Linked DNA regions of Homo sapiens: region 1 is linked to region 2. The links come from fine-mapping of genetic effects on gene expression. A gene starts in region 2. The other region holds a variant in brackets. All regions are shown on one strand. Distances are between the middles of the regions. Region 1 overlaps HNMT (histamine N-methyltransferase). Region 2 holds the start of HNMT (histamine N-methyltransferase).

Region 1 (15,811 bases), 32 kb before region 2:
GAAAGAGAAGCTGATTCCTGAAATCACAATATTTATAACAGAGAAAAGAATGGGATCCAGGGTTAAGCAGAGGGAGTGGTTTTTGATAAGAGGAGGTTTTTGCAATAAGATGGAAGAAGGAGATGATGCACAAATGCAGTTATGTTTGCAAAGTTAGAGGGTAAAAAATGAGTATCTGGCAGTTTCTATTTTCTCTATACATTATGAAGTGAGGTCATTGGCTCAGAACGAATGGTCTGGGAGAGATTGCAGGAGTGGTAAGGAGACAGGGGAGTTATGAAATAGTTATGTGAGGAAGTGGGAACAAAAGCAAGTCTGGTAGAGAAATATCTTGGCATCCTGGACAGTGATAAGTACTACCTGACAGGCAAAAGATTTCATCAGCTAAAGAAGCAGAGACATAGAATTGCCTGTATATGACACAATTGGAGTATTTCTTCCTTTGACTTCTTGTAAGTTTATTCTTTTGGGGTGATTATCATTGTAGACCAGGAAGAAAAATAGTGTTTTGTCGTTAATCAAGTGGTATTGCCAAAATACGTACATTTCCCGTTGGTAACCAACTTCCAAAACCCATACATCCCTTATGCTATTCAGAAATGTTAGTTATCTCTGGAAATCCAGCCCCATGCTATCTACTCAATAGTCACTCCCTTTCTTTTATTATTATTATTATTATACTTTAAGTTTTAGGGTACATGTGCACAATGTGCAGGTTAGTTACATATGTATACATGTGCCATGCTGGTGCGCTGCACCCACTAACTCGTCATCTAGCATTAGGTATATCTCCCGATGCTATCCCTCCCCCCTCCCCCCACCCCACAACAGACCCCAGAGTGTGATGTTCCCTTTCCTGTGTCCATGTGTTCTCATTGTTCAATTCCCACCTATGAGTGAGAATATGCGGTGTTTGGTTTTTTGTTCTTGCGTCACTCCCTTTCTATAACATGTATGAGTCAGTTTGTCGGATCTGGATAATGGAAGTAAAAATTTATTGAACTGAGGCATCATTTAACCTGCCCCTTCGACCATATGTCCACTACAGAAACACTCTGGGACATTGGTCCACCCAAACCATTAGAGCCACTAGAGAATATGTTATGATGCTATCATTCTCAAATCTCTATATAAACATCCAATGATATAAAAATAAATTAAAGACTGGGTGCAGTGGCTCACACCTGTAATTCCAACACTTTTGGAGGTTGAAGAGGGAAGATCACTTGAGCCCAGGATTTCAAGACCAGCCTGGGCAACATAGTATGACCCCATCTCTACAAAAAATAAAAAATTAGTTGGGTGTGGTGGTGCACACCTGTGGTCTCAACTAACCAGGAAGCTGCAGTGGGAGAATTGCTTAAGCTCAGGATTTTGAGGCTAGAGTGAGCTAAGATCATGCCACCGCACTCCAGCCTGGATGACACAGCGAGACTCCCATCTCAAAAAAGAAATAAGAATTAAGCCAACATTTTTAAAAATGGATAACTTGTAGAGGTATTTTGATTAGAGAAAACTGGTTTTTGGAATGTTAAAGAGAATCTTAGTATAATAAACATCTTTACCTTTTATTTGGGCAGATCATGGTCACTTGTAAAATTAGAAATCAGAAGATTTTCATTTACCTTTTAAAAATTAGAATAGTAGATATTCATTATATATATATTCTGAAAAGTCTTCTTTCTGAGTATATATTATAATACATATTTCTTACTTGAATCATATGAATAAAGTCCCACTTTTGAAGCTCCTTTTTCTCCAACATTCTACTTTGGTATTCAGATGATGTCTCCTTATGCCAAGCAAACTTTACGTTCTCGAGGTTCGATGTCTTGGCTACAAGCTCTAAAATACAGAGAAGAGGTGACACACCATCAATTTTAATTGCAAATGTGGAAACCATTTCCATTTAGAATTTTAATGCAATCAATGTTATATACAAACAGATAGAAAGAACGTTTTTCTTTCTTATGTCTGGGAGACCAGAGAGTTCATACTGCTTTTTTTGGTTTCTAGTATTTAATGAAATTAGAGGTGAAAGAAAGAGTCAGGAAGAAATAATTACAAGAACCCTGGGCAGAATAGGTTATATTGTCTTAGTATTAATGAAGAATCAACTGGTGAATTTTATCAATGGAAAGTGAATTGGAAACAGATATGTTTGTATAATTCAGGAGAAGACAAACTACAGTCCAGGGACTATATCTAGCCTGCTACTTATTTTTGTATGAACCGCAAGCTAAAAACATATATCGTTCTACTTCCTGACTTTGTGTCACTGCCATTCATGTTTCACGTCATTATATTTTTGAATGATTTAAAAAAACAAAAGAAGGATGCTAATTCATATGTGAAAATGATATGAAATTCAAATTTTAGTGTTTACAAATAAAGTTTTATTCAAACACACCCATGCTTGTTAGTTTACCTATTTTTCTTTTTGGCTGCCTTTGTGGCACATGGCAGGTTGATTAGTTATGGCAGAGACTGAATTGACCTTCTGAATCTAAAATATTTACTATTTGGCCTTTGCCAGGAAAAGTTTGTGAACTTTTACTGTAACCCACTAAACATAAGCTCTTTAAGGTTGGTTTAAATAATTCTGGATCAATGAATGAATCTGTACTTAAGCATAAACATCAAAAGGTAATCATTGATGACAACTGGGGAATGGATGAAGTGTTAATAGAAAAGGGAGTTTATTATTCACTGTTCACATTTTGAGATGTTTAGTCATGCCTGCCAAGAACTAATTCAGTTCTTCTCCCAATAAGCTTGTGAAAAGCATACCACAGTAACTATATTTTTAATCATTCAAGGGAACAATTTGAGTTAAGTCTTTTGGGATAGGATCTGGTGTAGAGGACCAGGAGTTACAGGTACCTTTGTATTTGGCAATTTGTTCAGCACTTGGCTCAACAACTTCATTGTTGATACAAACTCCTGGGTATTGAGCCTGAACTTTGGAGAGAATTTGAAGATCAATTTCACCTAGAAGATAAACATATGGGACAGGTCACATCATTCCAGCAAGAAATGATTAAAAACAATTTTAGCTGATTTATTATCTGCCCTACCTTTACTAGGAAAGCCTAACATAAATAAAGAATAATGTTCAACTGCTGCCCTGCCATGATGCAGGGCAGCTAGGTTCTAAGTAGGCATAGTAATGTGACTCAAGGAGGGCTGTGAGTGCCATCCATTCGTTTACATGATCTTTAACATCTATCACTATATTTCATCAAATCAAAGATGCTGTTGATTGTAGAAGGAAATTAACCCTTATTTTTGTTTCACCAAGTTAGAAAAAAGCCACTGTCAATTAAAATTTTAAGATTTTTATCAACTGGAGAGCATAACAATATCAGAGGTATTAAAATACGAAAAAAAAATGCACCTCAGAACTGGCAGAGTAGGCTAGGCCAGAAGAGTACAAAAAAATGTCAGATTAAATAAAGGGTACAAGCATATGTCAGGTAAAATAAAGAAGAAAAACATGTCAGATATCTGCCCTCATAAACACTATTACCTGTTCACAGACACAGAAATAGCCCTGGCTCAGTTGAATCAAGGTAGGAAGAGGGAAGAGAACATATGGGGAGAGGACGAGAGATGATGCCAGAGTGATGATGCTTCATGGGGGAAGATCACTCATGAACTCTGTCACTCCCAGGGTAAGTGGGAGTTAGCCCAGAAACTGTGGGGAAGTGAGGGATTGCAGGTACAGGGGACAAGATGACAGATGCACACACAGAAAATAAAAGAGTATATTTGGAACTACTAGCAGTCTAGATTTCTTAGAATATTGAGCAAGGCAGGACTTCCAAGCAAGAATCCCTGCCCTGGTGAAAATTCAGCCTGTAAGGGTTAGTGTAAGAGAGATGACAATAAGTCAGATGGACTTGAGTTTTAAACCTGTCTTCTTCACTTACTCGGTGTATACGACTTTGGGCAATTTGCTTTACCTCTCCAAGCTTCTTTTTTTTTTTTATTAGAAAAATAAAAATAATAATAGTACTTAATTTATTAGTTGTGAGGGTTAAATGAAGTAATGCATATAATGCACAGTGCAAAATAAAGTTGGCAGTGAATAAATGTTAGCTGTTCATTATTTTTATTGTTATCTTGAGTACATCTATTTGAAAATATCTCTTCTCTCCCTCTTGCTGATGCCTCCAACTTATGTTTTGCACTTTTATTCAGTTAGGTTATGATGTTGACCTTCACTAAAATGGAAATACCTCCTGGCAAGATTAGCATAGGAAAATGATGTTAGTCTTTAACATTTGGCATAAATGACATTAGCAGAAACTTTCCAAGGCTGCACATAGCAGGAAGCAAAAGCAGAGGTCATAAGACTGGGAGGTCTGGAAGGAAAGAGATGAGGAAGATAAACCAGGAACAGAAGATGCTAGACTGGGAAAAGACAGTGGTCCAGGTGCATATGAGAGTCCCAAGTACTGACAATAGGAGATGGCGTACATGGTGTGTGTGGAGGGAAGGAGGGAGAGTGGGAAGGAAGCTGAAATAGAGTATGAAGTCACTTATGTGACAATTTTCTTCACAGCCAGCCCTACCTACTTGAAATCATGTATTTCTTCACTGATGACTATAGCTGCCATTTATTATTGGCCACCTACTATTTGCCAAACACTGTGCTAGGCTTTTTACCTGGAACATCTCATTAATCCTGACAGCAAGTTCCATGATATTATTAATATTCCCAACTGGATTAGGTGATTTGAGTATGTTGACATTCAAGGGATATTGATATACCTGAAGTTTAAGTCACATTTGTCTAAATCTACAATGTTTATTCTTCTAACTCATTCAACTAAGAAGTAGAAAGATCACAAATGCTAAAAAGACATGAAAAGCCTTTTATTCTTCTGTTCAGCAACTATTCTGAAGGGAAAAAAAGACAACTAAGACAAAAGGCTGGTAAGAATAGCTGTGGGCTAATGGGAAATAGATTCCAGCTTGCCCCCAAAAGACTAGAGACCAAAATTTTCTGTTCTTGCCTCATATTAACCTAGCCATACATTTTAAATGAAAAATTATCAATTATGAGGATCTCAAATTCGACATTTTGAAAAAGATAACTGAAATGCAATTATATCCCCTCAGGGCTTGATGAGCTCTCCTCCAAAGATGGACCTTGACATTTCAGGTTGGCCTGGTTGGCAAAATATATCTAGCACAGTCTGGGACATGTTCAGAGCCAGGCAGTCCCTCTCCCTGGGGCACTGATAGAGGACACAATGCTAGAATCACAATTGACATATGGAAACCATTGGTTTGCATAACAGCCTCTAGAGTATAAGCTCATGTGTGCTGGATTCCTGACAAAAATAAATTAAGTTTAAGAAGAGGTGATAATGCAACTATTTCCTTAAGAGTCAATTAGAACGTAAAATCTATTTCTGACCTCATAAGTAGGGTGACCATACTTGTTTGTCAGGGACATTTCCATTTTATACCTGTTGACTTAGTGTCCATCTGCTTTCGTTTTTTGGTCCTAACTTGTTCATTTTTAATAAAATATCATTAGCAGAATTTTAGTTTTGGAAGTAGTTTTTAAAAAAGAACATTTCATAAATTTACTAATATGAGAAATTTGTTCAATGCATACAAATTTCAAAAATTATAATAATTTTAATTATTTTACCTACTCTTTCCAACTAATTCTCTAAAGTACCCTACATTGGACAATAAATAATACCACTGTGCTCATAGGCGATTACATTCTGTGCTTTTTTTTATTTCTTCTGAGAAAGAATGGAATATATATGCAGAATGTACAGGTTTGTTACATAGGTATACATGCACCATGGTGGTTTGCTGCACCTATTGACCTGTCTTCTGTGTTCCCTCCCCTCAACCCCAACCCCCAACAGGCCCTGGTGTCTGTTGCTCCCCGCTCTGTGTCCATGTGCTCTCATCGTTCAACTGCCACTTATGAATGAGAACATGCGGTATTTGGTTCTCTGTTCCTGTTAGTTTGCTGAGGATGATGGCTCCCAGCATCATCCATGTCCCTGTGAAGGACATGAACTCATTCTTTTTTATGGCTTTACAGTATAACATGGTGTATATGCACATTTTCTTTATCCAGTCTATCACCGATGGGCATTTGGGTTGGTTCCATGACTTTGCTATTGTAAATAGTGCTGCAGTGAGCATACATATGCATGTGTCTTTATAGTAGAATGATTTATATTCCTTTGGGTATATACCCAGCAATCCCATTGCTGGGTCAAATGGTATTTCTGGTTCTAAATTCTTGAGGAATCTCCATACTGTCTTCCACAATGGTTGAACTAATTGACATTCCCACCAACAATGTAAAAGTGCTCCTATCTCTCCACGGCTTTGCCAGCATCTATTGTTTCCTGATGTTTTAATAATTGCCATTCTGACTGGCATGAGATGGTATCTCATGGTGGTTTTGATTTGCATTTCTCTGATGATCAGCGATATTGAGCTTTTTTTCATATGTTTGTTGGCCACATAAATGTCTTCTTTTGAGAAGTGTCTGTTCATATCTTTTGTCCAGTTTTTGATGGGGTGGCTTTTTTTTTCTTATAAATTCATTTAAGTTCCTTGTAAATTCTGGATATTAGATCTTTGTCAGATGGGTAGAGCACAGAAATTTTATCCCATTCTGTAGGTTGCCTGTTCACTCTGATGATAGTTTCTTTTGCTGTGCAGAAGTTCTTTAGTTTAATTAGATCCCATTTGTAAATGTTGGCTTTTGTTGCAATTGCTTTTGGCATTTTTGTCATGAAGTCTTTGCCCATGCCTATGTCCTGAATGGTATTGCCTAGGTTGTCTTCTAGGGTTTTTATGGTTTTGGGTTTTACATTTAAGTCTTTAATCCATCTTGGGTTAATTTTTGTTATAAGGTGTAAGGAAGGGGTCGAGTTTCAGTTTTCTGCATATGGCTAGCCAGTTTTCCCAGCACCATTTACTGAATAGGAGATCCTTTCCCCGTTGCTTGTTTTTGTCAGGTTTGTTGAAGATCAGATGGTTGTAGGTGTGTGGTGTTATTTCTGAGGTCTCTGTTCTGTTCCATTGGTCTATATATCTGTTTTGGTACCAGTA[C/T]CATGCTGTTTTGGTTACTGTAGACTTTTAGTATAGTTTGAAGTCAGGTGGCATGATGCCTCCAGCTTTGCTCCTTTTGCTTAGGATTGTCTTGGCTATATGTGGTCTTCTTTGATTACATATGAAATTTAAAATAACTTTTTCTAATTCTGTGAAGAATGTCGATGGTAGTTTGATGGGAATAGCATTGAATCTATAAATCAATTTGGGCAGTATGGTCATTTTCATAATATTGATTCTTCTTATCCATGAGGATGGAATGTTTTTCCATTTGATTGCATCCTCTCTTATATCCTTGAAAAATGCTTTGTAGATCTCCTTGAAGAGGTCCTTTGCATCCCTTGTTAGCTGTATTCCTAGGTATTTTATTCTCTTTGTAGCAACTGTGATTTGGAGTTTATTCATGATTTGGCTCTGTTTTTGTCTATTGTTGGTGTAAAGGAATGCTTGTGATTTTTGCACATTGATTTTGTATCCTAAGACTTTGCTGAAGTTGCTTATCAGTTTAAGAAGTTTTTAGGCTGAGATGATGGGGTTTTCTAAATATACAATCATGTTGTCTACAAACAGAGACAATTTGACTTCCTCTCTTCCTATTTGAATACCTTTTATTTGTTTCTATTGCTTGATTGCCCTGGCAAGAACTTCCAATACTATGTTGAATAGGAGTGGTGAGAGAGGACATCCTTGTCTTGTACTGGTTTTCAACAGGAATGCTTCCAGCTTTTGCCTATTCAATATGATATTGGTTGGGTAAGTTTGTCATACATAGCTTTCATTATTTTGAGATATGTTCCATTAATATCTAGTTTATTGAGAGTTTTTAACAAGAAGAGTAGTTTAATTTTATCAAAGGCCTTTTCTGCATCTATTGAGATAATAATGTGGTTTTTGTCTTTCGGTCTGTTTATGTGATAGATTATGTTTTTTGATTTGTGTATGTTGAACCAGCCTTGCATCCCAGGGATGAAGCTGACTTGATTGTGGTGGATAATTTTTTTTAATGTGCTGCTGAATTTGGTTTGCCAGTATTTTATTGAGGATTTTCCCATCGATATTCATCAGAGATACTGGCCTGAAGTTTCCTTTTTTTTGTTGTGTCTCTTCTTGATTTCGTTATCAGGAAGATGCTGGCTTCATAAAATGAGTTAGGGAAGAGTCCCACCTTTTCAATCATTTGTAATAGTATCTGAAGGAATGGTACCAGCTCCTCTTTGTATTTCTGGTAGGACTCAGCTGTGAATCCATCTGGTCCTGGGCTTTCTTTGGTTGGTAGGCTATTAATTACTGCCTTAATTTCAGAACTTGTTATTGGTCTATTCAGGGATTCAACTTCTTCTTGGTCTAGTCTTAGTAGGGTGTATGTGCCCAGGAATTTAACCATTTCTTCTAGAGTTTCTAGTTTATTTGTGTAGAGGTGTTTATAGTATTCTCTGATGGTAGTTTGTATTTCTGTGGGGTCAGTGGTGATATCCCCTTTATCATTTTTTATTGTGTCTATTTGATCCTTCTCTCTTTTCTCCTTTATTAGTCTAGCTAGCAATCTATTTTGTTAATTTTTTCAAAAAACCAGCTCCTGGACTCATTGATTTTTTTTTTGGAGGGTTTTTGGGTCTCTATCTCCTTTAATTCTTCTCTGATCATAGTTATTTCTAGTCTTCTGCCAGCTTTTGGATTCATTTGTTCTTGCCTCTATAACTCTTTTAATTGTGATGTTAGGGTGTCAACTTGAGATCTTCAGGCTTTCTGATGGGGGCATTTAAGTGCTATAAATTTCCCTCTTAACACTGCTTTAGTTGTGTCCCAGAGATTCTGGTATGTTGTCTCTTTGTTCTTGTTGGTTTCAAAGAACTTCTTGATCTCTGCTTTAATTTCATTATTTACCCAGGAGTCATTCAGGAGCAGGTTGTTCAATTTCCATGTAATTATGTGGTTTTGAGTGAGTTTCTTAATCCTGAGTTCTAATTTGATTGCACTGTGGTCTGAGAGACTGTTATGATTTCAGTTCTTTTGCATTTGCTAAGGAGTGTTTTATTTCCAATTATGTCGTAGATTTTAGAATAAGTGCCAAGTGGCATTGCGAAGAATGTATATTCTGTTGATTTGGGGTACAGAGGTTTGTAGATGTCTACTAGGTCCACTTGATCCAGATCTGAGTTCAAGTCTTGAATATCCTTATTAATTTTCTGTCTCATTGATCTAATACTGACAGTGGGGTGTTAAAATCTCCCACTATTATTGTCTGGGAGTATACCTCTCTTTGTAGGTCTCTAAAAACTTGTTTTATGAATCTGGGTGCTCTTGTATAGGGTGCATATATATTTAGAATAGTTAGCTCTTCTTGTTGAATTGTTCCCTTTACCTTATGTAATGCCCTTGTCTTTTTTGATCTTTGTTGGTTTAAAGTCTGTTTTGTCAGAGACTAGGATTTCAACCCCTGCTTATTTTTTGCTTTCCATTTGCTTGGTAAATTTTCCTCCATCCCCTTATTTTGAGCCTATGCATGTCTTTGCACATGAGATGGGTCTCCTGAATACAGCACACTGATGGGTGATGGGTCTTGACTCTTTATCCGATTTGTCAGACTGTGTCTTTTAATTGGGACATTTAGCTCATTTACATTTAAGGTTAGTATCATTATGTGTGAATTTGACCCTACCATCATGCTGCTATTTGTTTATTTTGTACACTAGTTGTTGCAGTTTCTTCATAGTGTCATTGGTCTTTATATTTTGATGTGTTTTTGCAGTGGCTGCTCCTGGCTTTTCCTTTCCATCTTTAGTGCTTCCTTCAGGAGCTCTTGCAGGGCAGGCCTGGTAACAACAAAATTCCTCAGCATTTGCTTGTCTGGAAAGGATTTTATTTCTCCTTTGCTTATGAAGCTAGTTTGGCTGGATATGAAATTCTAGGTTGAATTTTTTTTTTCTTTAAGAATGTTGAATATTGGCCCCCAATCTTTTCTGGCTTGTAGAGTTTCTGCTGAGAGGTCTGTCAGTCTGATGGGTTTCCCTTTGTAGGTGACCTGGCTTTTCTCTTTGGCTGCCCTTAACAATTTTCTTTCATTTCAATCTTCAATCTGATGATTATGTGTCTTGGGGTTGAATTTCTTGTGGAGTATCTTAATGATGTTCTCTGTTTTTCCTCAGTTTGCATGTTGGCAGTCTTGCTAGATTGAGGAAGTTCTCCTGGATAATATCCTGAAGTGTGTTTTCCAGCTTGTTTCCATTCTCTCCATCTCCTTCTTGGACTCCAATCAATTGTAGGTTTGGTCTTCTTATGAAGTCTCATATTTCTTGGAAGCTTTGTTCATTCCTTTTCATTCTTTTTTCTCTAGTCTTGTCTTCAGACTCTGATATTCTTTCTTCCACTTGGTTGATTCATCAGTTGATACTTGTGTATGCTTCAGGAAGTTCTCGTGCTGTGTTTTTCAGCTCCAACATGTTGTTTATGCTCCTCTCTAAACTGGTTATTCTAGTTAGCAATTCCTCTAACCTTTTATCAAGGTTCTTAGCTTCTTTGCATTGGGTTAGAACATGCTCCTTTAGATCAGTGTAGGTTTTTATTACCCATATTTTGAAGCCTACTTCTGTCAATTTGTCCATCTGATCCTCCCTCCAGTTCTGTTACCCCGACGGAGAAAGGTTGAAATCATTTGGAGGACAAAAGGCACTCTGACCTTTTGGGTTTTCAGCATTGTTTCATTGATTCTTTCTTGACTTCGTGAGTTTGTCTAGTTTTGGTCTTTGAGGCTGCTGACCCTTGGATGGAGTTTTTGTGGAGACTTTTTGTTGTTCTTGTTGTTGATGCTGTTGTTGTTGCTTTCTGCTTGTTTTTTTTCTTTCAATGGTTAGGTCCCTCTTCTGTAGGGCTGCTGCAGTTTGCTGGGGGTTCACTTCAGGACCTATTTATCTGATTCGCTGCTGTGCCTGGAGATGTCACTCAAAGAGGCTGGAGAACAGCAAAGATGAGTGCCTGCTTCTTCTTCTGGGACTTCTGACCTTGAGGGGCACCAGCCTGATGCCAGTAGGAGCACTCCTGTATAGGGTGTCTGACAACCTCTATTGGAGGGTCTCACCCAGTTGGGTGGCATGGGGAACAGAACCTGTTTAACACAGTGCCTCACTTGCGGGGAACCCACTTGTCTGGGCTGCCTGGATTCCTCAGAACTACCAGGAGGAAAGGCTAAGTCTGCTGGTCCACAGAGACTGCAGCCATCCCTCCCCCTAGGGACACAGGACCAGGGAGATGCAGGTTCTGTCCCTGAGCCTCTGGCTGGTGTTACTGGAGTTGGTGGGGGAAGCCTCACCCAATGAGGAAGGATGGGTCAGGGTCAGGCCTGAAGAGGCACTCTGGCCACAGACTGCAAGCAGATGTGTTGGACTGTGAGGGACAAGTCTTGGGACCAAGCCGTCCAGCCTCCCTGTCTCCAACAGAGGAAAAGCACAGCCTGGGGCTATAGAGATGGATGCCTCCCTTCCCCTGCCCAGGGAGCTTTGTGTTAGGCAGATGCAAATCCCAGTACTGGCTGCTGCTCCTCCCACAAGGAGCTCAAATAGCTTTGACAGCAGGCAGCCACACCCAGTTCTGGTCACCCCTCCCTCCAGGAGTTCCGTAGGCTTAAGCAGATTCCTTCCAACCGAGAAGCTAAGAGTCTGTGCATTCCTGGGTTGGGACGCTAGTCCCTGGTGGTGTGGGTTCACGAGTGGGATCTTCCAATCTGTGGGTTGCACAATTCTGTGGAAAAAGCACGCTCACCCATTGCCTCCCTTGGCTGGGGGGGAGGGGGCTCCCCCACTCCATGTGGCTCTCATGTGGGCTGCCACACCACACTGTTCTTCTTTCTCTCCGTGGGTCACACCAACCTCCTAGTCAGTTCTGATGAGAGAACCTGGATGCCTTGGTTGCTGGTGAAGTATTCACAAGCTTATGTTTTTTTTCAATGGGGGCCTCCAAACGCTGCTGTTTCTAGTCGGCCATCTTGGCCCCGCCCTGTGTTATTTTTATAATAAGTATAGTATTTCTTATTGTGATATATATGTAATAAATAATACAATTATCTACTTCTATATCTAGCTATATAAATATCTACTTCTATCTATTTACATACATATATGTATCTTTATAGAAATGTGTGTATATGCATAGATCGATATATGTGTGTGATATTATTTTATATATCTATATGTTTTTATCTATGGCTCCTGGCTTATGATTCCCATAGCCCTTGTTAATAGTCTTTTATTATAATTTTATGGTGCTTTTGGCCTCAGGAGCAGACCTCAGAAAACCTTTCACCTATACAAGGCAGGACTATAACGTGTTTCCACCTTTGTGATTGAGGGTCATAAGACCTCATTTCAGAGGAGGTCCTGTCCCATATCCTAGAGGAATTAATGCTGCACAGAGAGATCAAGAAGAATCTGAACAGATAGGCCTCACTGGGTTTTCCCACTCAGCCTATCAGCATTAGATTATAACCTTTTCATCCAATCACATTACTACATGGTTGTCCATGCTTCAGTCATGCCTATCCAATGAAGTTTTCATAAAAGGCCCAAGAGAACAGGATTTGAAGAGCTTCCAGATAGTGAACATGTGTAGGATCCTGGCAGGTGGCATATCCAGGCAGAGCATGAAAGCTCTGTGTACCTTCTCTCATACCTTACCCTATGCATCTCTTCATCTGTAGCCTTTGTAACATCCTTTATCATAAACCAGCAAATTAAGCCAGTTTCCCTGAGTTCTGTGAACCACTTTAGTAAATTAATCAAACCCAAAGAGGGGTTGTGGAAACCTCAACTTGAAGCTGGCTACTGAGAAATTCTGGAGGCCCAAACTTGCAACTGGTGTCTGAAAGGGGACAGTTTTGTGGGACTGAGCCCTCAACCTGTGGGATCTGACATTATTTTCAGGGAGACAGCATCAGAATTGAATTGAATTGGAAGATACCTGGAAGTATCTGCTGCTTGGTGTTGGGAGAAAAAAAAAACTCATGCATTTGGTCACAGAAGTCTTCTGTGTTGATTGTTGTGGTGTGAGAGCAGAGGAAAAAGTTTGAGTTTTTCCCTCAGAACATATACATATGTATGTACATATAAATATGTGTGGGTATATATACATATCCATAAGATATAAAATCATAAAATAAAATATTCCTTGACATTGTATTCTACATGATTTGCTTTTCAGTATCCCTCAGAAATAGCAGACATGTATTTTTAAAAAATAATTTATACCCATAATCTGCAATATAATATGGAAAGAGAAGAATAAAGTTGGAGAACCGACACTATCTGACTTCAAGACTTACTATAAAGCTATATGAATCAAAACAGCCTGGTAATGGCAAAAGAATAGACAGATAGATCAGTGGAACAGAATAGAGAGACCAGAAATAGACCCACATAAATATAGTGAATTGATCTTTGACAAGGGAGCAAAGGCAATACAATGGAGCAAAGATAGTCTTTTCAACAAATGGTGCTGCAACAACTGGATACCCACCTGCAAAAAAATGAATCTAGACAAGGACCTTACATCCTTCACAAAAATTAACTCAAAATGAATCATAGAACTATGTGTAAAACATAAAACTGTAAAATTCCTAAAATATAACACAGAGGAAAACCTAGATGACCTTGGGTACGGCGATGACTTTTTAAATAGAAACCAAAGGCATAATCTATGAAATAAGTAATTAATAAGCTGAACTTTATTAAAATTAAAAACTTCTGCTCTACAAAAGAAAATGTCAAGAGAATGAGATGACAAGCATGAAAGAAAATAATTGAAAAGAGCATATCTGATAAAGGATTACTATCCAAAATATACAAAGAACTCTTAAAGCTCAACGATAAGAAAACAACCAGCCCAATTAACAATTGGGCCAAAGACCTAAACACCTCACCAAAGAAGATATACAGATGACAGATAAATATATAAAGAGATATTTCATATCATATGCCATCAATGAAATGCAAATTAAAACATTAACAAAATACCATTACACACCTGGAAGGGCCAAAATCCAGAGCACTAATGACAACAAATGCTGGGAAAGATATGGAGCAACAGGAACTCTCATTCGCTGCTGGTGGGAAAGGTAACTTTGGGTCCACTTTGGAATACAGTTTGGCAGTTTCTTAAAAGACGAAGCATAACCTTACCATATGATTCAGTAATCAAGCTCCTTGGTTTCTACCCAAAGGAGTTGAAAACTTACAGTCACACAAAAATCTGCACATAGATGTTTATTAGCTTTATTCATAATTGCCAAAGCTTGGAAGTAACCAAGATGTGTCCTTCAGCATATAAACTGATAAGTAAAAGAACAAACAAACAAAGAATCTGTGGTACATGCAGACAATAGAATATCATTCAGTACAAGAAAGAAATGAGTTACTAAGCCATGAAAAGACATGGAAGAAACTTAAATGCATATTACTATCTGAACGGAGCCAATATGAAAAGGTTACATGCTGTGTGATTTCAACTAGATGACATTCTGGAAAAGACAAAATTATGGAAACAGTGAAAAGATCAGTGGTTGCCAGGGGCTGAGGGGTGGATGTGAAGGGGTGGAGCATAGATGATTTCGGGGACAGTAAAACTACTCTGTATAATACTGTAATGGTGGATACATGTCTTTATACATTTGTTTAAACCCGTGGAATACAACACCAAAAGGAAACCCTAAAGTAAACTATGAGCTTCTAGTAATTATATGTCAATGGATGTTTATAAATTGTAGCAGATTGTAATTCTGGGAGGGAATATATATATAATGGGGAGACAATGCATGCTTGAGAGCAGGGGTTGTATGGAAAATCTCTGTACCTTGCTGTCAATTTATCTGCAAACCCTAAACTTCCTTTAAAAAACCTTTCTTTAAAATAAAACAACAATGACAAAAATATTTATTTTTATTTTTTTGAAACAGTCTTGCTCTGTTGCCCAGGCTGGAGTGCAGTGGTGCAATCTCGGCTCACTACAACCTCTGCCTCCCAGGTTCAAGCGATTCTCCTGCCTCACCCTCCCAAGTAGCTGGGATTACAGACACGTACCACCATGCCAGGCTAATTTTCATATTTTTAGTAGAGACGGGGTTTCACCATATTGGCCAGGCTGGTCTCGAACTCTTGACCTCAAGTGATCTGCCTACCTTGGCCTCCCAAAGTGCTGGGATTACAGGCGTGAGTAACCACGTCCGGCCAACAAAAAGATGTATATAATCCTCTTGCCTGTTTAAAAAAAAGGGGGGTCAATAGTTCAGATCTGTCATATTATAGTCTTGTTTAACCATTTAACATTTAGTTTTAAAGTATTATCTTTTCTTGAAACATTCACCCATGCTGTTTGCTATCCATCATCACTCAAAGTTTCTTCTTCCTTTATCTTCCTTTCCTGGCCATCAAGAAGTTTACTTTCTCAATTCTGTCCCTACTAGCTGTGCTCTTATTCAGGTCAAGATTATTCACATTTGGAATACTGCAATAATATCCTAAAAGGTCAGCCTACCTCTGGTCTTGTATTCCTCAAAGCACTTACCATGATAACCATTTTAAACCCTGCTAAGCAAACCTATCACTTCCCTGCTTAAAATCTTCTAGTGACTATAAAATGGATGAAGGTCAAGCTTCTCCACTAAACATAGACTATCTGGCCTGGTCCTTATTCTCATCACTCACAGTTTTATATTCTGAATTTT
Region 2 (15,811 bases):
TAGAACACTTATACTTAAGAGGTTCAAGGGATTACCACTTGGCATTAAGTTACAAGTGACAATAGTGTCCACTTGATATCGAGTTGTAACCATTACTGAACTATCACTCAGACAAAAGAAAATAACTAAAGATAAATATATAAATAATATATCTACATATTTTATATATTAATGCATTAACCCAAACTTCCAGATGACTTAAAAATAAGGCAAACACTGTTCAGGAGTTGATATTAGGAAAAGTCTTGAGATGAAACTTATTTTACTTTTGCAGAAGGGAATAGCCTTCACTCTCCAGGAGCAATAAGAATGTCCTAAGCACTTTGTAAATGTTACCTATATCACTCTCACTACAACCTTATGAGATAAAATTCATTGTTCCCATTTTACTGATGTTTTAGCCAAGATCATAAATTTCACTGGAGGCTGAGTTACCTGTGTCCATCTACCTTTCCAGACTTTAAATTTTCCCCTAGAATGAAAGCACTGGATCTAAAAGTAATGACACTATAAAATGCCTATAAAAGTATGCTTAGGGCTGGGCATGTGACTCATGCCTGTAATCCCAGCACTTTGGGAGGCCAAGGTGAGTGGATCACAAGGTCAGGAGTTTGAGACCAGCCTGGACAAGATGGTGAAACCCCGTCTCTATTAAAAATACAAAAATTAGCCAGGTGCGGTGGTTGGTGCCTGTAATCCCAGCTACTCAGGATGCTGAGGGAGGAGAATTGCTTGAACCCGGGAGGTGGAGGTTGCAGTGAGCCAAGATTGCACCACTGCACATTTCAGCCTGGGCGACAGAGTGAGAATCCGTCAAAAAAAAAAAGGTGCTTAGGAGTTATCTGAATGCTAGAGGTAATTCTAAGCATTCAGTTTTGGAACTGAGTAAGAGGAAGGGAACAGATTAGGCCCATGCCACTCAAAGAATGAGTTCACAAGAATGTAAATTAACTCTGTCACTGAGCACATTTTTCCCCATGGTGAGACTTTCTCAATGAAAAAAGCTGTGCATCAGTTTATATTCCAGTGCACATTTCTTTTTTCTTTCTTTCTTTCTTTCTTTCTTTCTTTCTTTCTTTTTTTTTTTTTTTTTGAGACGTAGTCTCGCTCTGTCACCCAGGCTGGAGTGCAGTGGCGCGATCTCGGCTCACTGCAAGCTCCGCCTCCAGGATTCACGCCATTCTCCTGCCTCAGCCTCCCGAGTAGCTGGGACTACAGGCGTCTGCCACCACGCTTGGCTAATTTTTTGTATTTTTAATAGAGACAGGGTTTCACCGCGTTAGCCAGGATGGTCTCGATCTCCTGACCTCGTGATCCGCCCCCCTCAGCCTCCCAAAGTGCTGGGATTACAGGCGTGAGCCACCGCGCCCAGCCTCCTGTGCACATTTCAGATCTTCACATGGACCAATAACAGTTTGAAAACAGTAACCAGTCCATGAACAAGGTTTTAAATGGCACAAACTTAAGAAGCTTATTATGAGATTTTCCTTTTCTGTGAGTATTTTAATCATTTTGGATAAGAGTTATCCTTAAAGTTATCCTATTTGATTTTTCATCTATCAAAAGAACAAGTCACATCACTTATTCACAATAGAGATAGTAATGAAGGCTAATGTCCTAAACCCTGTAAATCTATGGGGGCATTAATGTTAGTTGAAGTAATATTGCTAGTTTTAATAAGCCGATCTCTTCCAAAAGCAAAAAAAAAAAGTCTTCCTAAAAAATGAACAATATTGTCATCACACAGCATAATGGTTAAAGTGAAATATGAACTTTAAAAATATATTACTCATACCTGCACCTCCGCCTATGCTTAGAATCTTAATTTCTGATTTTGTGTCTCCAATCCTGAAAGAAAAAAATTATGTAGTTTTAGAAAAATGTGTTAGGTGCTTTGTGAAATCTGATTATCTAGTCTAGTTGAAGAGAACAGACTAAAAATACAATGAATGAAAACTAGGCCAACATGAAATGTCCCAATTATATCAGTTATATTGCCATCTTTAGAGTATATTTCAAAATATAGGTTTTATTCATTAACAATCTTTAACTGGGAGACTTGGAAATGGCAGTATGTACATATCAGAGGTACAAAATGCCATTTGTTTGGTTATGGCTTGGAGAACAAGAACAGAAAAAGTGGAGTTTTGAGTCTAGTCATATAATAAGCCACTCATCGTAGATAAAGGAAAGGCTCAGCTGGTTCCCACTATCTATAATGTTTGCCTTCTTTCCTCCCCCTTTTTTTAACCTTCCTTTTAATGAACAAGTGTTTATTAAACATGCATTATGTGTATTCTATCCTAGGCATTAAAAAAACAGATATCACTTTGCTCTCAAAATGAAATGTGAGATAATAAAGCCCGAATTATGACTCAGGTACTAGAAATAGAGTGGAGTGGACAGATTGGGAAATAAGCCAGTAGGACTTGCTGTTAGATTGATGTGAAGAGGTCAGAAAAAAATATGAATGCACAGTGACTTCCCTGTTTCAGGCTTGGATGACTGGGCAAAGGGTGATGCCAAAAAGGAAGCTGAGAAATACAGTTTGGCAGCAAGCTTATGTTTTGTCAGGGCTTTTAAAAAAAATAAATACGAATTCAGCAGACATTTGGATTTGCAAGATTTAAGCTGGGAGGAGAGAAATCAGGGTCAATGATGTATTCTGGAGAATCATCATCATAAAGTAATGGTCAGTGCTAGAAAAGTAGATTCCATCACCCAAAGATATTGCAGAGTTATAGTAGTAGTGGATGGTGATGCAATACCAACTTCTAAAGATCACTGGATTGTGAAGAATATACAAAGAAGACAGAGAAGAAAAGAAATAAAGCACAGAGAGGTACCAGAGTAATTGGAGGCAGAGAAAGCCCGTCGTCATGGCAAAAGCAGCAGAGTGTACTACTTAAAAAAGGAAAAATCTCCATCGAATTTGGCAATACGAGTGTCTTTAGTAATGGCAGTTGTAAAAGAAGATTGAAGACTGAAGTCAGATGGCAATGGGATTAAAACTGAGCTCAAAAATGAGGAAGCAGATCTAGAGTCTGTTGAAACAGGGTGAAAGAGAGAAGGAAAAGAGATGACTGCTGTAGGAGAACCATGAAGGGAAAAGGATGGTGTTTGTTTCTTTGGACTTTGGGATGGCAAACAAAACTGTGTTTTGTCTACAGTGCAAAAAGCCTGCTCAGTCACAGGATGGGAACAAAAATTGAAGTAAGGTTCTAAAGGAATCTTGCAAAGTCTAGGGTCGAGAACACCTATAAATGATTTGCCTTCTTCAATTCTAATTATCCTCCAACTCATAATCCTGAGTCCTAACACATCCATTTCTATCTACACCTTTTGTTCATTCTTTAAAATGCTTACATCTATGACAGCATAGGGAGGCTATGAAGCAGAGCACCCAAGTTGAAATCCCAGGTTACTGTTATGTTACCTTGAGCAAGTTATTTGACATCTCTGTGAAATAAGATAATAATATCATCTCTCTTGTAGGATTATTAATAACTGTTTCTAATTCATGGAGAAGTTGTGAGGATTCAATGATTTAATTCATGCAAATCTCTTAGAAATGTATCTGCACATGACAAGCACTCCACATATATTAGCAATTATTATGATTCTAGGTACATGTAAGTGATTTATGTGAATTAACTCTTTGAATCCTTGAAATTCCTCTATGAGTTAGATACTATTATTCATCCCATTTCACATATTATAATGACATCAAATAATTATTGAAAACTTACTATTTTCTAGCCAAGGATTTAAATGTTTTATATGCAACAACAATAACCAACTTTACTATTTATAGTTATTTACTATAATTTTTCCTGCCCCCAAGCCCTGCCCCACCATCTACCCTCAAATAGGGGATTGAAGAATTCCTCTATAGGGAAACAAATCATCTCAGTGATAAAGTTAACATGATTTTATATCTGAGGATCTCCCAGGAAAGAGCTGAGTCCACACTCAATTATTCAGTGAGCTACTCACTCAACAAACCCTGCCCTGACTTACACAAAGAGAATCTGACTACCTTTTAGTGCCTCATTATTTGATTGAATAGAAAACCAAGGCTCTTTAGGTGGTTGGGGAGCTGTCTAACATAAGAAACAGAGATGGAAAGAGGCAGAGAGAGCAGAGGAACATTTTGTAATGAATAAGAAGGTATTACATCTGGGAATGATGAAAAGAATGCTATAGAAAACATTCTTGGAAATTAAAAATATAATAGTAAAAAGTTAATACATGGGCTGAAAGAGGAAAGTTGTAGCAAACTGGAAATATAAGAAAATTAGGTAATCAATCCAGGAAGTATTTGATGAATAAAAGTTCCAGAAAAAGAAAACAGTGGTGAAGAATGATTACCAAAGTTCCGCATAACTGAAGGATCTGAATCTCAATTGAAATAGCCCAGGGAGTACCCATAAAATGGGTAAAAAGGAACCATTTCACAGCTCAGTATTTTAAAATTTCAGAATACTAGACGTAAGAAGATTCTAAAAAGTTCAAAATAGGGAAAACAAAACACATAGCAATGTAAAAGTTATTCCACATGCCAAGGATGAGAATTTTGAGTAGCATTTGATTTATTTTTTTCTCTTGTTTGAGACAGGTTCTCACTCTGTCATCCAGGCTGAGAGCAGTGTCTCAGCCATATCTCACTGAAGCCTCGATCTCTCGGACTTAAGTGATCTTCCCACTTCAGCGTCTGGAGTAGCATGTGCATGCCGCCTTGTTCAGCTAACTTTTTCACTTTTTTGTAGAGATGGGATCTTGCTATGTTGCCCAGGCTGGTCTCAAACTCCTAGGCTCAAGTAATCCTCCCGCCTCAGCCTCCCGAAGTGCTAGGATTACAGGCGTGAACCAACACATCTGGCCAGTATTTTATTTGTTAACAGCAATTCTGGTATCTAAAAGACAGTGGAAAAGTACCTTTAGATCTATTATACAAAACCATTTTCAGTATAGAGTTCTATATCCAGTCAAACGATTAACATAGAACCAAGGGATTTTTAAACATACAAAGTCTCAAAAAGTTTACCTCTCGTTCACTCTTAAAGTTCTTAAAGAATTGTTCAGGAAACAAAGGACCGAGGAAACAAAGAAAAGAAAGGCATGAGATATAGAATCAGGGAATCAAATAATGGAGAAAGAAAATGATTCTCAGAAAGTGAAATAAATTCCCTCCTTAATAGTTGTATAGCAGGCCAAAGCAGATCTTCCTAAACTGAAAAAAAGAACAGAGGGCTTCAGAAAAGTTGTTCCCTTGGGGTAAAATAAACAGATTCCTTGATATGTTTGCATATATTGAGAGGAGATTAATATATCTGCTTGGGGATCAAAATAGTAATAGGTACATGGAGAACTAAGAAAAGAAACCAAAATCAAGGCAATAGTCAACTCTAGGGAGAACAAAAAGTTGTACGTAAAAGGAAATATAAGCATAGTCGAATATATTGCTCAATTATTAAGAATATGTACATAGGCAAAATAACATAAACACTCAAATTATTTAACCAAAATTTTGACTACATATAGTGACATGATAGGGTGGGAAATATGCATGCTTACTTAGCTATTTTAATACAGCGAAATGAAGAAATAGAACAATAACATGTTATTTTGAATTATGAAAGAAAATTCCATAAATAACTAAAAGATTTCAAAGTGCTGAAAGTGGTTGCTTCCGGAGAGTGGGAATCAAGAATGGAGTGGGTGGGGTTTGTTATAGTCCCCACACACTTTAGAACCATTTGATGTTTTAAAATATGGCATGTCTTGCTTTAATAAAAATTTAATAGGCTCGCTCCACACTCAATTAGCACAGTGAGCCACAAACTCAACAAACCCTGCCCTAACATACACAAAGAGTATCCTAATCACATTTTGGTACTTCATAACTTATAGACAACTCTAAGTAACAATTTTAAAAGTCCTTCAGCTAAATCTTATTTCAAACATTACCTTCAGGAAAAAAATAAATGACACTGAATCTGATCATTCCTAACTATATACTACTGTTATAAGACAAACAGTGTGCCCTTAAAAATTCTTCAGTCTTTCACAGATTTTATAATATTTCCAGTTAGATTTAAACTTTGAAGATAAGGAAGGGGTCATTCATCATCGATTATGTTATCTCCATCCACGGTACCTCTTCAAACCAAACTGTGTATGGCTGAAGAAAACCAAGGATCTGGTAAGCTACAGACATGAGCAAATACTTTTAGTACTGAAAAAGAATTGAGAAATTAACTCATTACCTTTAACTTTAGAAATGAGCAAAGAAACCCAAAGAGGTTAACTATAATTAGTTCCTAGGTAAGAAGTTCTCTATATTTGCTATTTGCTTTGATGTTTGCATCCTTATCCTATTACATATTAATTTTTAATATATAATATCCTATTTTTTGAAAGCTAACATTTAAAATCTGAATCATGTTAAATAGAAAAGGAAATAAAATTTTATGTACATCTAATAATGCCTGCTCTGGTCAGACATAGGTACTGCCCTGGTGAAAGAATTTCAGGCCTGCAATAGAGAAATTCAGCAAAAGATAAAATACCACTTTCCTTTGCTGTTTGCAAATTGGATCCATAGTCATTTCTTCCCAGTTTTCCATTATTATTTCCTGAAGTAGAATGAGTTACAGCAAATCACCCCCAGATAGGTGATTTGATTATCTTTAGCATGTGGAATCTGTTACTCTCATAATGCTTATCAGCTCTGGCACAAATTGAACACATTAATCACCCAAAAAAAAGAACTCTGCAAGAAGGATAGGAACCAGTGAGTTTCACTGATAATGGGAAAATGGTTCTTTTTTTAAGGAACACATTGCTAATATTAAGCTGAAAGAAAAAGACAATTTTGAGGAAGAGAGTGATAACTATAACAATGGATAAGGAAAATTAATTTAAATGGATATTATGAGAACTGAGGCACTCAATCCTCAGGGCAAATCGTACTTTGGCAATTATTTATATTTGATTCTAATGAAAAGCATACCAGACTCCCTTTGGGACTTTTTTGGGATGTAAAATTTGGAGGAGGGCTGAAAAATCTGAGTTCGAAGATTAGCATCTTATCTTTTCCCAAATGAACATGGATTTGTGCCTTCAAATGGTTAACGCTTATCTCTATGCAGCTGGAAATACAACACAAATGGGAGCCTTTGAGTGTTCAAAGCAAACGTGGAACCAAAGCACTGCAGGAGAAAGGCAGGGCAGGGCAGCGAGGAGGGGACGACGGGGAGCTGCTATCAGTAATTCGCCCTTATCCCTGTGCCCAGCCTGCGAGGCTGAGCGAGACCCATCTATCACTGACGCACAGCCAGTCTGAGGCTTGTCCCTTTGACAACAACGTCCCTTTTGTTACCTTCCTATTATGCCTGGCAGCTTCTTGTCCATGAATTCCTGCATGCACTGGTGTTCCGTGGAATGGTTGAGAAACCTCCGGAAAGATTCAACATATTTCCCGTGGTCAGAAAACAAGCTCCTCATGGAAGATGCCATATTTGGTTTTCTGAGAAAGACAGAGCAGGAAGCAAGGTTTAAGTTCCCCTCCTTCTCTTCCCAGTTCCCTCTTTCTTTCCCCACCCCCACCAGTTTCTATCCAAAAAAAAAAAAAAAAATGCTAAGCTTGTTTTGAATTTAACATGCCACAAAGGCTGGCTTGTAGAGCTCATTACTGAGTCAATATTTGAACGGGACTTTGCACTGATACTTTAACCCCTATACGGTTGTTTTGTAAGAAATAGAAGTATTAAGCAAGGCTGTAAATCCACTGCTAAAACTTTTCAAATTCCTGAGGTTGAAAGGTCATAAAAACAAACTGTATTCAAATCACTTCCTGTTTTGTCAGCAAAGCCACAAGTAAGTTCCAAGTGGGAAAGTGACTGTTCGAAGTGGCAAACACCAGGATAAAGAGGACAGCTACACAGCACTCTCAGAAATCTACAGCAGTGAAATCTTTAACGGAAGACTGTCATCTGCCTCTGTGCTTTCTACGGGATTGTTTTGGGCCTTTACATTCCTCAGCACTTGAATTTTCAACTTATCTGCTGCATTTCTTCAAATGCTGATTTGTTGTAACTCAGAAATTATCTTAAAAGGAAGTCACGAAGGAGGAGCCCAAGAACTCGTAGCTAGAAGGTGTCAGAAGCTGCATTTAGGGGAATGAGAGTGGTAAGAGAAGTCTTGGAGCAAGAATGCAGGACACCAGGGTAAAAGTGCAGTCCATAGAATCCTTCCCTAAGCGCGCTGAACACGACGAGGTCATAGATACTTCGCTTGGCTGGATGAGCCTTTGGAAACCCAGTGGTGTCCCCACCAGAAGAGCCAAAGCTTCAGAGTACCCACACACAGTCTTTTTCCTGGGAAGAGGTCTTTAAGAAGGTCATCCTTTATCTAATATTGGGTTGTTAATAATAGCATCCAACTCATGGAGGAGTGCTGAGGATCAAATGAGTTAACTCATATAAGTCTCTTAGAAATATGTCTGCTTAAACCGTCCCTTCTTCTAATTGAGTTCCCAAGCTGCCCTCTAAGCATTCAAAACACTTCCCAACTCTCTTTTTTTTTTTGAGACAGAGTATCGCTCTGTCGCCCAGCCTGGAGTGCAATGGTGCGATCTCCACTCACTGCAACCTCCGCTTCCTGGACTCAAGTGATTCTCCTGTCTTAGCCTCCCGAATAACTGGGATTACAGGCACCCGCCACCACGCCTGGCTAATTTTTGTACTTTTAGTAGAGACAGGGTTTCACCATGTTGGCCAGGCTGATCTCGAACTCCTGATCTCAAGTGATCCACCCGCCTCGGCCTCCCAAAGTGCTGGGATTACAGGCGTGAGCCACCATTCCCAGCCCCCAACTCCCTTTTATAAGTATGTTTTGTTCTCACTATTCTTAGAGCCAGTGCTTTTACCCCGGGGGAAAGTGTAATATCTGGACAGGCAGATTGCCATGGATGACTCTGCCCTTAATGAACTGTCTGACTTTGGCTGAAACATAAGCTGCAGTTTGCTCATCAGTAAAATGGGAATGAATTTTATCTTATAGGGTTGTACTGAGAATAATATAACTAATGTTTAAAAAGTGCAAGCCAGTCCCTCTGCAAAAAAAATATATATATATAAAATGACAAAAACAGTCGTCACTTTATTCACGGACATTGAAATTTGAGTTTCATATCATTTTCACATGTCATGAAATATTATCCTTCTTTGAATTTACTTTAACCATATAAAAACATAAAAGTTATTGGTAGCTCATGGGCTGCACAAATCAGGTTGGTAGGGTTGGGTTTGGCCACAGGCCTTATTTGGCCAAGCCCTGATTTAGCTCCTGTGCCCTTCACTCATCCTTAGATAAGGTCTTTGCTGGTTCTTTACTCACATCTCTATCCAACCAGCCTTCCCTTTCCTCAGATGGGCTCTGACAAACTTTTGCTTCTATTACCATCTTCCATTTTTCTCTTTAGAGCTCAACCCAAATCATTCATTCATTCATGTGTAACATCTATCTGTTTTTGTTTCACTTTAACCAAAACCAAAAATGGCCAATAATGTATTCATCTATTGAATAAAAGTTTAGTAAGAGTCTCTGTTTGCTATTCTGCTGAGGAATACTCCTGACATGACTTTCTCTTGGAAAGCTGCTGTTAAGGCCTCCCTTAACTGAAACTTGGTCTTCTGAGACCATCACCTCCCTTGCCTGCTGTCAAATATTCTCCAACAGAGCCAGTTCTTCATGTGGATCCCAGTGAGGACTTCCTTTCCGTCTCCACTGTTTCCACCTTACTTGAGATTCTCTTTATTTTTCACTTATTGTGCTTTTTTTTAAAAAAAAATTAAGTTCAAGAGTACATGCACAGATTTGTTACATAGGTAAACATGTTTTATTGGGGCTTGTTTTACAGATTATGTCACCACCCAGGTATTAAGCCTAGTACCCATTAGTTATTTTTCCTGATTCTCTCCCTCTTCCCACACTCCACCTTCAATAGGCCCCAGTGTGTGTTGTTCCCATCTAATGTTTCCATATTTTCTCATTATTTAGCTCCCACTTATAAGTGATAATATGCAGTATTTGGTTTTCTGTTCCTGCATTAGTTTGCTAAGGATAATGGCCTCCAGTTCCATCCTTGTCCCCACAAAAGACATGATCCCATATTTTTTATGGCTGCATAGTATTCCATGATATACATATGTCACATTTTCTTTGTCCAGACTATCACTGATGAGCATTTAGGTTGATTACATGTCTTTGTTATTGCATATAGTGCTGCAATAAACATTTACATGCATGTGTCTTTATAACAGAACAATTTATATTCCTTTGGGTATGTACCCAGTAATGGGATTGCTGGGTTGAATGGGATTTCTGTCTTTTGGTCTTTGAGGAATCGCCACACTGTCTTCCACAATGGTTGAACTAATTTACACTCTGACCAACAGGGTATAAGTGTTTCCTTTTCTCCACAACCTTGCCAGCACCTGTTATTTTTTTACTTTTTCATAATAGCCACTGTGACTGGTGTGAGATGGTATCTCATTGTAGTTTTTATTTGCATTTCTCTAATGATCAGTGATGTTGAGCTTTTTTTTATATGATTGTTGGCTGCATGTATGTCTTCTTTTGAAAAGTGTCTATTCATGTCCTCTGTCCACTTTTTCATGTCTTTTTTTTATTCTTGTAAATTTGTTTAAGTTCCTTATAGATAATGGATACTAGATCTTTGTCAGGTGCATAGTTTGCAAAAATTTTCTCCCATTCTGTAGGTTATTTATTCTGTTCATAGTTTCTTTTGCTGTGGAGAAGATCCTTAGTGTAATTAGATCTCATTTGTCAACTTTTGCTTTTGTTGCAATTACTTTTGGTGTCTTCGTCATGAAATCTTTGTCCATGTGTATGTCCTGCATGGTATTGCCTAGGTTGTCTTCCAGAGTTTCTATAGTTTTGGGTTTTATATTTAAGTCTTTAATCCATCTTGAGTTAATTTTTATATATGGTGTAAAGAAGGGATGCGGTTTCAACCTTCTGCATTTGGCTGGCCAGTTATACTATAGTGTGTGTGGTTTTTTTTTTTATTGGCTTTCCTGCTTTAGGAATCACACAGATCCTAACCAATTTTATTGCCACTGTCAACTTCATGTTTTTTTTTAAGTAAGTTTGGATAAAGACACTCTTTTCTTTCTCTCATAATATTTAGTCTCCCCACTGACCCCCACGTCAAGTACAAGATCCATTCTGTAGCCCCCCCAATAATTATCCAGAATTGTGTCTCATTTACCTCTAGTTTGCATTTATATCCCCTTCAAACTGTGCTGCTTCTCTGGATACATTCCTGTGCTTTTTTGCCTACAGCATCTCCTCATAATAGTCCCTTCTGTAACATGCTGCTTCCTTTCTTACCGCATCCATTGAAAAATTTTCTATTCTTCATATGCTACCACTTTCATATAGCCTTCCATATTTCCCTCAAAATAATCAGCACTCACGCTCGTAATTTCTGAGATTCTTGCAAGCATTCATCCTTGTGTTATTGTTGTTTAATATATTTGCCTTAACTCCCCTGCTTGTCCCCATGTGACTTAGCTCATAAAGACAGGAACTGAGTCACAGCTACTTCCCGTGATGTGTTGCCTGAAGTAGACTTTCAGTTCTTTTTTAAATAATTAAGAATATGCTTGAACATTTACACTATTGAGTTGTTCTCTGCTATCAGATGTCCTCCATCCTTTTCATTATTGAGTAGCTCTATATGTTACCAATAACACCAGAATTCCATTTATTGAGCACTTACTATGTGCCAGGAATTGTACAGATCTTTTCAAATTTAATGTAGGATTTACTCTTTGTGGTACCTCCATCAGCTTCCCCCTATTACAAATGAGAAAACCAAGTTTCTGAGAGATTAAGCTGCCTAGCCAAAAACTGCAGGACTGCTGTTGAATTATAGTCTGTCAAACCCCAGGACTAGCACTCTCACAACAATTTTTTATTCAGCCAAAACCTGCTGCCCTATAATTCTTAGATACTACTCCTATTTCTGGTTGCTTAAACTAAACAGAAGTAATCCAGTTCTTTCTCCATATAACAACCATTAAGAAACTTGAAATCAACTGTCAGGACAACCTTACTCCCCAGGTGTCTCTTTTATAGTTCCTAACTATTTATTCTACAATATAGCATTATATAATTCATTACTCTGGCCCCTCCTTTGGAAAGATTCTAGTTTGTCTGGGTTCCTTTAAAAGATGATGTTTGAAAATAAACACAATATCCCCAAAGCTACATAAAAAGTGGAGATTTATTTTCCAGGCATATACTAGTGTTTCCCAAAGTTATGCCCAACCCAACTTCTTTCAGATTTTACTCTGCAAAAAATGGGTTCCATGGTCAAATAATTTAAAAAGTGCTGAATTCAGTAGCTTCCTCTGGATATTCATAATGCACATTAGTATATTAAAGATTCATAAAACCTTTGTCACATGTCCTCTTCAGATGCAAATATATCATGGCGATGACATTTCTCTGATTAGTCTTGCAGCCCCTCAAAAGAAAAAAAAAAGAGGAAATCTTGTTGCTTTCAGCATGTTTTGTGTTTGATTAAGTGCTGGTTTCAGCAATCACAACTTCCTTTTAAAATTGCATATAGAATATCTGTTTCATAATCCATACTGCATCTGGAATTTCCTTCTAGCTGGCTGGTTGGAATTACTGAATCTTGAAAATCTTTTTTTCCCTTTTTTTTGGAAAATTGAAGCAACAATCTACCACATCTATCATTTGCCATGACTTTTCAAAAGTTACCAGCAGTGACATCAGTATTACTTTTATAAGTTCTTTCAGCACATTGAAATGTAATTTTTTTAGACCTTAAATTATTGCCTAATTTAAAATTCTTATTTATTTTCTTACCTATTTTGGGCATCCATCCCCTATTATATATCAATTATTAAGCTGTTACTGTGTCAAAGCACCTTATATACTTCTAACACTCTGGGGGATGGAACTATTGACACCATCAAGTGAGACTCAGAGCAGATAAATAGTTTAAGACCACATAACTCCTAAGAGAAGAGCCTCGGTCCAAATTAATGTTTGATTCCAAGGCTCATTTAAAAAATTATGCCATATTACCTCTCACCACTCTGTGTCTTTCCAATATGAAGATTGTTTTGGAGCAAAATATAGGAGCAAAGAGAAAGATAGAAGCAAAGAGAAAGTGGAATAATTCTGTGTTCTTTCTATCACCTTTTAATAGAACACCATCTGTGCTAGGTCAAAAAACAAAGGCTTTCCCTTTTTCATTTTTCTTCTTCTGTATGTGGTATACCAAAAAATAAACAAATGAACAAAAGAGAAGAAAAAACAGTAGCAAAGTCTTCAGGACCCATTTTCTTCTACACAGCATTGTTCAGATATTTCTATTCATCCTGGTCTTTAGTCTTCTGAACACCATGCTCATTGGTCTAGCTTCTTATTCTTATGTCCCATCATCTAAGTAGCATACTACATAGGTATATGTTAACAGCAATATTGTTAAAATATCTTAGTCAAATAGGTCAAAGAATCACATTTTCTTTTCACTTGACAAGAATGGAGGAAGACGTATTTTATACAAATTGGTTGATTTACTTGATCTGCTAGCTTATTTGAAAGTTATCAGGAAGATTGACCCAAGTGTGGTCTCAAAGGAAGGATTGGAATTATAGCACATAAAATTTTAGAGCTTGATTAGACTGGTAATTTCAGCCAAATATAATAGGCATCAGGAATCTTACATTCTACAGGAGACTTAGATAAGTTTCTCATAAATATGGAAATAAGAAGCAAGAAAATGGAATGCTATACAAGCCTAGCCTCTTACTAGGTAAATCTGCTCTAAACTTTTTTTTCCATATATAAAAAAATGTGGAAAGATGAGAGGTGAGATGATCTTTAAGTTTTCTTGAAGTTCTAGTTAAATGCCTTCCATCTTTTAAAAAGATAAATTTTTGTGGGCTTGTGAAACTAAAAGTAGTTGTATATATATTCATAGCTAGTAGAGCCACTGTATCTAAAGATTGTCAATAAATCATAAATGATAACCTAAAGATAGTCTCTGGGTAAGCAGCCCCTTGACATCGTGTTATTAGGCAAATTTACCAATGTGAGTTGCTTAAGGTCACACAGCTGGTAATAATGCCATGTATCTTGTTACTATTAATGACTTAGTTGTTTCAATTATGCTTTATTAATGTGGAGTTTATAATAGTTTTGTTTTAATTAACTTAAGAAAGGAAAGGCCCAAAATACCCAATCAGGGACAAACCAAACCATCTTGTGATAGAGACAAAATACTTGGAGGATAATTAATTGAGAAGGAAGAGAGCAGATGGACAGACAAATCCTGTTAAAAGACATAAAGAGTAATCAGTGAAATTCTAGCGATATAAAGCTATTTTGAAATATTTAAGGATGTGAACAAAGAATAAGGCACAACAAAAAAGAAAGAGTCTGTGAACTAACTTTCCTTTTAATAATCAAAAAAAATTTTGTCACCTTGAAAGTACTAGATCTCCTCTCAAAGGTAAAGGTCAGTAAGTATTTAGAACCTGGAAAATTAGCAAGAACTGGACAGCTATCAAAACAAAAAATCAAACCAAAATCCAATAATACAATTCATGAAATGAGCTTTTGTCTTACTGTCCATGTTACAGATGATGCAATCTTCAGTGACTACCGTAAGGGGTAGCACCAGTGTGGAGGTGGGGATCTGGTGAAGGGAAAAGCTTCATGTAAAAGGAATTTTATAAACAGAGGGGTTGTGGTAAGCAAACTTCTCTGGCATCTGGTGAAGAAGTATGTGCTCAATATACCAAAAAATTGCTCAATATACCAAAAAATATAGTCTATCAAATCCCAGGACTAGAACATTCTCCTGGGCTAGAACATTCTCCTGTCTGAGATGCCTTGTAATATGATTTGGCTGAGCCTTATTTTCTCACCTGTGAAATAGAGATAATAATTCCTACCTCATAAAAATTTGTGAGGATTAAAAGAAATAATGTGTATCAGGTTTTCAGCCTAGTGCCTGGCATATAATAAACTCTCTGGTGTGAGGTTGACATCTTTAACTTTCAGTTCCTTCATTTATGGGATGAACACAATAATGCTGTATTAGTCAGGTTTCAATACAAGTGGCAAAATCTCTGTCCAGGATTCCAGAGATAATTTTTAATATGGGTAGCTCATGATAAAGGTGTTGGAAGAACTGAAAAGCAAACAAGGAAGGTGAGCAAGTCCTCAAGGCAGGATGCCCTTGCCACCTGTACCACCTGTAGGAGCAGGTGTTACCAAAGTTCTGGAGCTCAAGCTGCATAGTGGGAGGTAGAACAAGCGCTCTTGAGGATGCTGCCTGAAACATCAGGACATGGGCAAAAGTACCCAGTGTCTCCTCTTCCTGACCCCTCATCTCTACCAATTTTCCCACTTTACTAAAACTAGCTGAAAACCAGTTGGCAAGGAAGTATGGGTGATATAACTTGTAGGATTCAACTTTTTGAAGTACCTAGTAGAGGATGGGAAGGACCAGAAATGTATCTAGCATCAAACAGTCAATAACCAGAACAAGTGCCTACTATAGTAAATTAATTTGTTGTGAGTGGAAAAAGAAAAAGAAAAAAAAGCATAAAGCAAAATACCTAGAATGTATTAAGTACTCACTGAATGCCAGATAAAATAGTGAAAACAAAAGGTGTCTATTGTGATAGCTACAGGTCAATGAGAGCTAGTACTCATGAACTCTTAAAGAAGA

The links.
Region 1: its variant is fine-mapped to the expression of HNMT in whole blood (TOPMed, PIP 0.92).

What each region holds. Positions count from the first base shown.
Region 1 is chr2:137,988,098-138,003,908 of GRCh38, reverse strand. HNMT (histamine N-methyltransferase) reads right to left here. Exons shown (of 6, transcript NM_006895.3): 3 at 2,884-2,991; 4 at 1,715-1,845. Among named protein-coding and RNA genes, the nearest start is that of HNMT, 32 kb to the right of the region's middle. The variant C/T (reference allele first, on the strand shown) is at 7,105.
Region 2 is chr2:137,956,202-137,972,012 of GRCh38, reverse strand. HNMT (histamine N-methyltransferase) reads right to left here and starts at 7,540. Exons shown (of 6, transcript NM_006895.3): 1 at 7,385-7,540; 2 at 1,796-1,848. The coding sequence starts at 7,521.